Regions from separate parts of the Homo sapiens genome. Here region 1 is linked to region 2. The links come from fine-mapping of genetic effects on gene expression. A gene starts in region 2. The other region holds a variant in brackets. All regions are shown on one strand. Distances are from middle to middle.

Region 1 (5,383 bases), 46 kb after region 2:
CAGGCCAAAAATTCTGTATTTTAATAGAAAATACTTTAAATATGTACTTACCACCCAGATTTAGCAGATGTTAATGTTTTGCCATGTTTGCTTTTTTTTTTTTGAGACGGGGTCTCGCTCTGTCATCCAGGCTGGAATGCAGTGGCGCAATCTTGGCTCACTGCAACATCTGCCTCCTGGGTTCAAGCAATTCTCCTGCCTCAGCCTCCCAAGTAGCTGGGGCTACAGGTGTGCACCACCACCCCGAACTAATTTTTGTACTTTTAGTAGAGATGGGGTTTCACCATGTTGACCAAGCTGGTCTCAAACCCCTGACCTCAAGTGATTCACCCACCTCGGCCTCCAAAAGTGCCGGGATTACAGGCGTGAGCCACCATGCCCAGCCCCATGTTTGCTTTTGATTTTTTATCCTAATAGAAGGAATGCTAACATTCTCATCTCATTTCTAGTTTTAATGAGAATACTTTTAATATTTCACCATTAAAAATGATTACTTTAGGTTTTTGGTAGATATAATTTATAGGGTTAAAAAGGCCCTATTTCTAAAAGTTGTAGAGGAATTTTTATAATGTTAAATATCTGAGTTTCCAAATTCCAAAATTCAGTAATCTTAATGTATTAAGGTTTTAATACATTGCTGAATTAAATTTACTTATACAGTTGTCTCTTGGTACCCATGAGGGATTGACTCCAGGACCTCCCAAAGGAAACCAAAATTCAAGGATGTTCAAGTCCCTGATATAAAATGGCTTAGTATTTGCCTATAACCTGTGCACATCCTTTCATATATGTTAAATCATCTCTAGATTACTTATAACATCTAATAAAATATAAATGCTATATAAATAGTTGTAATATGGTATCGTTTAGGGATTAGTGACAAAAAAGTGGTAGAAACATAATTTTTTTATGAAATATTTTTGGTCTGAGGTTGTTGAATCTGCAGATTTGGAACTCACAGATATGGAGGAGCTTTTTCTCCTTTTCTGTTTCCTGGAAGTTCATAGTTTATATGAAGTAGGAATTATTTGTACTTTGAAGATTTAGTAGAATTCATCTGTAAAAATAATCTAGGTTTCATGGGGGCATTTGCTGTAGGGAGTTTTTACTGATTTAATGAATAGGTATGTTCAGGTCTTTATTTCTTCTTATGGCTTTTGTTATTTATATTTCTCTGGAAAATTGTTCATTGCACCCTTGTTTTAAAGCTTATTGGCATAATGTTCCTACCATAGTCTTAAAATGATTACACCAGAATAACTGTAGTTGTACCCCCTGTTTCTCATTCTTACGATTATTCATTTGGGCCTTTTATCTTTTTTATCTTGATCAGTCTTGTCGGCAGTTTACCCCTTTTTAAATTAATTTTTTCAAAAATTAGGGAATCATTTCTTTCGCTTTTAAAAAATTTCATTAATTTCTGCTTTTTATTTCCTTCTACTTTCTTTTTGTTCACCTGTTAACTTCTTAACAACTTCTAGTTTAGCACTTGGTTCATTAATTTTTCAAATTTAAAATTTTTCTAATGTAGCCATTTAAGGCTATAAATTTCCCTCTAATTGTTGCTTTAGCTGAATCTTACAAGTCTTAGTACGTTTTGTTTTTATAGTCATTCAGTTCTAAATATTTTCGAAAGTATTTTTCTAATCCATTATGAATTATTGGACTCACATGCTTGTTGATTTCCAAAATATAGGGGTTTGGCCTTTATTTTTTTAAAATGACAGTTTCAAGAATATGTCTTTAACCTTATGTAGTAACTTTAAAATTCTTGATCTTAATACACCACAATTTTCCATTCTTTTACTTTCAGCCTGTCTGCATTGTTTTGATATATTTCTTATAAGCAGCACATGGATGGACTTATTGTTTGTTGTTGTTGTTGTTTACATTTGAGAACTTCTGGTTTTGACAAGTTTACATTTGTAATTACTGATTTTATATTTATTATTTTAAATATCTTTATTATAATGAATAAAATAGCTTAGTTAACCTATAATGTTGGTGAAATGCTGAATCATAGCCAAAGAAAATAGGAGAAAATGGGGCTGTAGCCAAACCAATAATTAAATGGAGCAGAAAGAAAATTCAATAGTTATTTTTGCAAATAGTAATGCTTGAAGAAAAGCAAGTTTAATTACAGGAAGATGCAAAAAATAGATGGAGACTTGTG[A/G]CAGTTTAAATGGAAAGCTTCTGGGCTTCCTGAAGGGCTACAGCAGTTACTGACCCTGGTTCCTTATTCTGCTGTTGTTGACCTTCCTCTGGTATTTCCGAGTTAGATTCACAGTACTGAAGAATTGACCTTGTTAGAGCAGAAAAATGAGATGACATAAGTTGAAAGCCTCTTGCCTTTTGCACAGCACCATGCCCAGAGCCTGGGTTTTACATAGTTAAAGGCAGCAATGACATCTTTTTCCAACTTCTGTTTACAAAGTCAATATTTAAAATTACCGTAAAGATTTCATTTTCAGAGGAGAGTTTGAGAATGTCTAAAGCACAGCTAGGCTGCCCACATGGCTGTTAGTGGATCTTGGATGATGATGCACAAGCACTTATCATTCATCTAATTGATCACTCAGCTGCTCACATCAGGCTTGCCTGGTGGTTTGATTATTATGCAAGTTTTTTTCCTAATGTGATAAAATATATGTAATGTCATATTTATCATTTTAATCTTAATTGTACACTAATAAGTGTACAATTTAGGGGGCATCAAATACATTCGCAATGTTGTATAACCATCACTATTTTTTCATTATCTCTGAGAAAAACTCAGTGCATGATAAATAATAACTCCCCCCATACTGTCTCCCCCTGCCTGCCTGGCTCTGGTAACCTCTATTCTACTTCCTCTCTGTTTGAGTTTGCCTGTTCTAGGTACCTTATATGAGTCGAATCACGTATTTATTTGTCGTTCTGTGTCTGGCTTATTTCTTTAAGTATAGTATTTTCAAGGTTCATTCATGTTGTAGCATACGTCAAAATTTCATTCCATTTTATGGCTGAATAATATTCTCTTGTATGTACACATTACCACATTTTATCAATCAGTTCATCTGCTGATGGACACTTAGGTTGTTTCTACCTTTAATATTTTTTTATTTTAAAAATCTGAGTAAAAAGTACAGACCTTGCCATATAAGGAAAGAGTGATATTGCCACTATTAGATTAAAAACTCCCAAGAAAAGATAAGCTGATCAGAGATGGTTTCTGGTTCAGATTTCTTAGGAGTGTAGCTTGGCCTCTTTCGGGGAAGATTATAGGTAAGGACATGAGTGAGTCCTGGAAAGTAATGGAGTTCACAAGAGTTGGAACATTTCTGGTCTACTGTAGACTGGGTACTGGGTATTGAGGAGAAATATGGTCCAAGGGAGTTTGTGTTCACTATATCTTACCTCCGTCTCTCAGGAGCAGGTCAAAGCAGAACACTTGTGTAAAATTAAATAAGTCCTCAGCTGATCTCTGCAGTAGAACGTGGAGAAAGAAGTAGGAACATTAGCACCAGCCAAATATAAATAAAATCTGGGCACTTTATCTAAGATCTTTTTTTTTTTTTGAGACAGGCTGGTCACCCGGGCTGGTGTGCAGTGGCACAACCACGGCTCACTACAGCCTCAACTTCCTGTGCTCAAATGATTCTCCTGCCTCAGCCACCTGAGCAGCTGGGACTACAGGTGTGCGCTTCCATGCCTGGCTAATTTTTGTATTTTTTGCAGAGACAGGGTTTCATTATGTTGCTCAGGCTGGTCTCAAACTTCCGGGCTCAAGCTATCCACCCACCTTGGCAGCCCAAAGTGCTGGGATTGCAGGTGTGAACCACTGCACCCAGCTCACCAACTCTTACTGCTTTACCATTAAGTATTTTGGTTTGGTGAGCTAAGCCTGAATGGGTTATTGATCAGCATTAAAATTTGGAATAAAATTTTAACAATGAATTTATTAAAAACTGAATATTAGCTAATTTTTGGCTTCAGTTTGAAATGCTTTTGAAGATCTCAGCATTGAAATCTTCACATATAATCATCTTTATTGTTTCTTGTTAACTGTAATACTAGTTCTTGCAGCTTTTTATTACTTTCCTATAATAAACTCTTGTTAGGTGATCAATAATTGAAGGAAAAAAGAAGAAATTAGAAGTGTTTTAATATCCACACTAATTCTGTTGGAGCAAGGAGCTTTGCTTTTTCTTCCAGTGTTTCTATTTAGCACAGCTGCCTAGAACAATTAGTCTTGCCATTTATTGCTGTGACTTTTGGCTTTGAAATTAACAGGTAATGGTGTCAGCTGGTCTCTGATTATTCATCTTAAATTGTTGGATGCATGATTCATTTCCTAGAATATAGGCACAAGTCTGTGATTAACCGTTTGTATTGCTACCATTTGCTACTTTTCATACTAAAAATCCTGTCTTATAGATAGGGAAATTCTTTTAATTATATCTGGCTTATTTCATTGTATTTCTACTTTCACAGCACCTAAAAAATGTGCATTCTGAAAGAGGTACTTTCTAGTGAAATTTTTTATTTAATGTACATATTACCAATTCCAAAATGATTAACTAAATTTTTTTTTCCTCTGCCTCTAGTGATTTCCTAAATAAAAACCAAGAGCTGTTGCAAGATTTGTCAGAAGTGAATGACGAAAACACTCAGTTGATGGAAATACTGAATACTTTGTTTTTCTTGCCAATCAGACGACTTCATAATTACGCAAAAGTTTTGCTAAAGCTTGCTACTTGTTTTGAAGTGGTAAGCTCCCATGTATACCTCTTTGGACATTTGGAAAGCCAAGGATCATAGTTGTTTGTATGGATTATGCCACCACAAGATCTGGAACTCCAGTAATTTAATATTTACCTGTGTCTAATTAAATTTAATTTTCTTCAGGGAAATGACAGAGGAAAGTATGACTGTAGATAAATTGAGTTTTCTGTGGATTCAGTTTCCCTTTAGGGCCTTATCAAGATGAATAAACTGTATTCATTTTATGAAACTGTCTAAAGTTGAGACTCTATCAGATGCTACTCATTCAGTAGTTGTCAAAATTTATTGGATGCATGCTGACTATGAGTTAAACAGAGCTCTTTAAAGCCCTGGCTTTCTGTATAATGGCATACACCTGTAAGGCAGGGGTGTTACCCAGCCTGGATTCATGCTAGACTTTATGCCAGGTGTTTAGGTTACCTTAGCAAATGCTGAGAGGAATCAGTTACAGGATTTTCTCAAATGTTAACTAGTCCACCCTTACATAAAACTAGTTAGGTGGAATCCTAGGAAGTTAGCACCACACTAGGATATAGATGTATGTTAAAACTGGTCCTGAGACATTCACCTTTCAAATCCCATCGAAATATGTGATTTCATTTTGTTTCTACCCTGAAAG
Region 2 (5,383 bases):
ATACATAACACACAATTGGTAGACTACTATGGACAGGACTTAGCATCTAGCTTTTTTCTCTTATCTCCTAATTTCCAGATCATTCCATATCAGTATATAGAGATCATCCTCTTTGTTTTAGATGGTTGCATAGAATGCTTCCATTCTATGACAGTACCATTAGATTACAAAATGAGAAGATGACTATTGATTTCAGTAGACTTAAGGAAATGGTGAGGAAGACTGGGAAGTCAGAAAGTAGAGGTAGGAAATGAGGTTGGAAAGGAAAAAAGGCAGAAAGTAAAAAAATTAAAGATGAGATAGATAGCAGGTTTATACACTGTAAGTATATAGGAATAAGAAGACAGGCAGAGGTTGAAAATACATGAAGGAGAAGGGATAAGTAATGGAAATGTAAATAAAAAAATGAAATTCTTAGCCCCCCCAACCAACTGAATAGATCTCCCTCCACCCTCCTTGGCCAAGGGGATCCTAAAGAAAACCTTAAAAACTAGTTAAGGCCATGATGCGAAGGCAGGTTGGACATACCTCATTATATCCTCTCCCTTTGGAGTTTAGACCAGCATTAAAGTGGTCTAAACCATTTTCATGAAATGAAAATAGAGATCATAAGACTGACAAAATAGACTCTTGTAGCAATAAGATTATCCAACTCTAACCTGACTATGGTATAGCATTACAAGACAGATAGTTGGCCCTGAAGAAAATAAAAATATTTTACCCCAAAATATATTTCTTTGACATATTTTGAAATGACCCTGCAAAGCTGTCTCTTGTGGGGGGAATTTGCATTTTATACAGAATCACTTTCCTTTTTCAGGTCTTTTCTTGATCCAGGAGAGATTTAACCAAGAGTCTGACACATTTTAAGGTCCTATAACATATGCTACCTGGAAGCTTCATCTACGTAACAAGAACCTTGGCTTCTATAACCCCCTTCATTTTAACTCAAATATTTCTTTCTGCTAACTTCAACTCTTTAGGAAAAGCTTAGCTTTTTCAACCCATCATAAAGTCTCTGAATCCACCTATAATCTGTGAGCACCACCGGCCCCCCATGTATTGATCTATGTCTTTGCCTATAACTTCTGTCTCTCTAAAATGTATAAAACCAAGCTATAACCCAACCACCCTGGGCACATGTTCTCAGGACTTCTTGAGGCTGTGTCCCAGGCCATGGTTACTCATGTTTCGATCAGAGTATATTTAACCTCTTCAAATATTTTATAAAGTTTGTCTTTTTTCATCAACAGAACAAAGTCTTTCCTTTGGGGAGATTAGGGATCCTGAGTTCAGGATCTTCTAAGAAGAAAGAGGGAGAAGAAAAGGACTCGGTGAAAAGGAGCCGGGGCTCGGTGGCTCGCGCCTGTAATCCTAGCACCTTGGGAGGCTGAGGCACGTGGATCAATTGAGGTCAGGAGTTCGAGACCAGGCTGGCCAACATGGTGAAATCCCATCTCTACTACAAACACAAAAATTAGCCGGGCGTAGTGGCGGGCACCTGTAATCCCAGCTATTTGGGAGGCTGAGGCAGGAGAATCGCTTGAACCTGGGAGGCGGAGGTTGCAGTGAGCCGAGATCGCGCCACTGCACTCCAGCCTGGGCGACAGATCGAGACTCCCTCTAAACAAAACAAAACAAATCAAAACTGGTTGCAGGTAGGTTTTGTGGTAGTGGCTGATGGGATTTGGGATTTAAGGAAATTCACCTCTAGTGGTCTCACTTTCCTCAGAGATGTAAGAGACAAAATTTTTTATTTTTATTTTTACCAAAGCGGGTGAGTGAGTAGAGTTCAGTAAGAGGTTAGAAGAGCGTGAGGGCTGGGAACAGCAGGGGAGGGGAATAGGAGATAATCTGAGTAGCAATGTGTAAATGTGACTGTCTTAGGCTCAGCAATATTGCGTAGTCGCACGTGGAAGTCCCGACTGAAGTTGGACACTTTTCGTTCGCAGTGGTGCCAATTCTCAGGGTTGTGTGATTTTCTGCACCGATGCAGGAGTGAGCAAGGTTGGTTGAACTGTTGCAGACTAACAGTTTTGCAGGTGGGCGAAGGATCAGGGAGGAAATTGAGTTGAGGGTGTTGGTGAATAGGATATAGGAGTTTCAGAACCCGACTACACATCTGTCGTTGATGGTCTAAATATTTGCATGTTTGCAGGTCCAGCGATGGCACAATGCCTAGCAGCAGAAGGTTTGCACCCACTGTGCGACATGAGTGGCAGCTCTGGAAAATCATAAAATCATGGGAGGACTTGAGAGTGCAGGCTGGGTGGGGTGGGACTGTGGCTGCGAAAAACAGTGTTATGAAACTGTGCGCGGGACAAGAAAGCTGATTTTACTGATTGTATATTGGGGAGTACTACGGGAATCACTGGAGAGGCCACTTCATTTTCTCCTATCCCACCCCATCTTTTGGGGTTGCAACTAACCAGTAAGTTTACACATTGAGGATACAATGGCGAAACGGGGCCGCGAGGCGATGACGTCATTCGCGGGAGTAGGGGGGAGAAGCGACCACTGTTAGGGTACTGTCCATAAAGGCAATTTGAAAATATTTCAGCCTTTTTACTTTTATACTTCCGGCCCTTGCAGTTTGAGGTGGTAACAAACGACTGCTGCTCCCAACCACTTTCACCACCGCCTGTTACCATGGGAGCGCTCGGGTAGCTAGGCTTGGACGACTCTATTCTACGTCATCATCAAAGCGCATCTCAGGACTGATAGCTCCGCCCTAAACTAAGGGAGAGACTGTGCTCCCAAGTACGTAGCCTGCAGTGCCTAACGCATTCTCAGCAATTTTGACCCCCAACAGACGCCGTCGACAGTCTCCCAAGAACAATTCCCAGGAGCTCGGATTCCAAGAGCCGCCCGCGCCCTCGTTTACCTTCGCTAGTCGCCCTGCAGCCCCGCCCTGTCCGGAGGCCCCGCCCTCCATGAATCAGCTGATCCCGCGGACCCACTGGGTTGCCAAGCTCGCGCCGGATGCGGAGCGCGGTGCTGCCGGTGGAGCTTCAGGTGAGCGAGTGTGGGTCCCGGGTTGGCTATTGGCTAAGGAGGGCTTATCGGCTGGGACCCCTTGTATGCGGAAGGCCGGGGACAGGGAGCTAGGCGGAGGCTGTGGTCGAGGCCGGAGAGCGCCCTGCGGGGGGCCTGCGGAGACGGCGCCCGCATTTTCCCAGCTCTGGGTGCGATCGACTGCTCCTGCCGGTCCAGCAGCGCCCGAGGCGGCCCCTGCCTTGGCCCCAGGTTCTCCCACTTGCCCCGGTCTCTCCCTCCCCAGACTGGGCGCCGCTGCAGTGGTCTCAGCTGCGTGAAATTCCTTCAAGCCCCCTCTTCCCGCCTCCACCCACGCTGCCTTCCAGCTATTCATTCACGAGAATTTCTTGAATGCCCACACTAGGCGCTGAGCTGATAAACTGGGGTCCGTGGCCTGGAACCCTGCTGAGTGTCCCTGGCGGCCTTGCCACAGGGTGCAAATCGCGTTGAAGAGTGGACCAAGGGCTACTTGAAAAGGCGGTTGCGGAGAAAGAAAATAGCTTTGATAATAAGAATTAGTAGTTTAGGCAAGTCTTTGAGCCTATCAAGTAATTCATCAAGAGGAGAAGATAAGTTATTTTGAGAAGCGAAGCCAGAAAAATAACACAGGTCCTTGACGCTGGTGTTCGTCCTCGGATAATAGGGCTGCTTTGGAGACAGGCAACAGTAGACTGGTAGAATCGTTCTATTGCTTAAGGCTTTGATGGTGGAAGAGAAAAAACACTCTTGTTGAAGTGGCATATCCAAGAACAGTGCTTTCTTTCTGGTTTAGGATGGAGAAGGAACTGACTGCTGTACCCAAGTGAAGATCTTTACTCAGTTACCCTTATATTTGGCTATATGGAATAAAATTGTGTGATATGTTTATTCTGAGCAGGTACAAAACTTCAGCAAACCTATTGGTCCCACATTTTCCCCCCCATTTATCATATGATTTGGAGTGACCGGTTGACCTTTGAGTTAATGAATAATTTAAAGCAGTGAAAAATTTTTTGCAGTAAACTACGGTGTTTTAACCTTGATAACATAAGCATAGTGGTTAAGATTCTAGGCTTTGTATCTGAACATACCCAGAGTCACATCCATTTACATCTTTGATTTTGGGCAAGTTATTTAATCTCTCTGCCTCAGTTCTCTTGTCTCTAAATTGGGGATAAAAATGTTTTCCTGATAACAGTACCTTTACGTGTAATGGTTCATGTATCGTATTTATTACAGTGCCTGTTTTATGGTAAATATTCAATACATATTAGCTGTTTTTATAATTAATTCCTCCCACTACATCATGATCCAAACTGACTCTTTTCTTAAGTGATGGGGAAGGGAACTGAATATTTTAAGGAAGTAGCTATAAAATATGATTTCAAGTTGTTCTGTAGTAATTTTGGTGTTCCATAAGGACATTTTAATGTGAAAAAGATACTGACAGAATCTATACATGGTTTGAATTTATTAGTTTCTAAACTATGACCAGTATTAGCAGATTTAAAATTCATAATTATAGCAAGAAAACGTCAAAGTTGTTTAACAGTGTTAAAATTTGAAACTGTAATGATCCAGAAAAATGAAATACCAAACCGATAATTTTGGGAAAAAAACAAAACTTGAGTGGCATTATGCAGGCCATTTACTTTTTAAATGTACTCAATATAAACAGGAATCCCTTCTCTCCAAATTTCAGTTTTTCAGAATTTGGGCTGTCATTTGAAACACTTACTTTGGGCACTTTGACTGTTAAAGAAGCAAAGGGTATGCTAAGAACTTCAATGAGTCTTGATGTTAGTGTTTTTGTAATTAGGTGGAATCTCCTACCTTTTCATGAAAACTGGGTTTAAAGCAGTAGCTGCTGGGTCCATTCTAATGATAATCTCAAAAATGTGACTGACTTGTAAAAATCTACAATTATTTATTAATGTGAGACTAGGTAAAGTATGAGTTGAAAAACTAGGAAGAAAGGCAGAGTGGTGATTTTTAAGCTTGTATAAAGGAAGGCCCGCTTTGGGTACTATGAGGTACCTTTCTCACTCAGAGGCATGCTGTGAGGATTTGTGACTTTTAAATCATTTAGCTCTTTTTATAACTTTGTGGAATTAAATCTACCACGTATTTCAAGTGTATTCAGGATATGAATTTTCCTGGTAGAGAGTTTTAACAGATTTTTTTCTCTTAACCCTTCATTGATGACCAAACAATTTTGTTGTCTGTAATAAGAAAGTACTCGGTTTTGTAGGGTGTCAGTCCTTAAGAAAATGTTAGGTAGTCATCAATAAAATAGCAACAATCTCTGGCTTGTTTCTTTTTCATATTGCATTTAATTTTCCTTTCCCTGTCTCTTATTCATCTGTAT

What was found. PIP is the estimated chance that this variant, and not a neighbour inherited with it, causes the effect.
Region 1: its variant is the best candidate, but not a certain one, in a credible set for the expression of ALS2 in spleen (GTEx, PIP 0.63).

The regions. Positions count from the first base shown.
Region 1 is chr2:201,732,642-201,738,024 of GRCh38, reverse strand. ALS2 (alsin Rho guanine nucleotide exchange factor ALS2) reads left to right here. Exons shown (of 34, transcript NM_020919.4): 13 at 4,587-4,749. Among named protein-coding and RNA genes, the nearest start is that of MPP4, 37 kb to the right of the region's middle. The variant A/G (reference allele first, on the strand shown) is at 2,174.
Region 2 is chr2:201,778,509-201,783,891 of GRCh38, reverse strand. ALS2 (alsin Rho guanine nucleotide exchange factor ALS2) reads left to right here and starts at 2,959. Exons shown (of 34, transcript NM_020919.4): 1 at 2,959-3,015. RefSeq lists enhancers at 2,600-2,669, 2,680-2,909, 2,920-2,989 and a silencer at 3,120-3,289.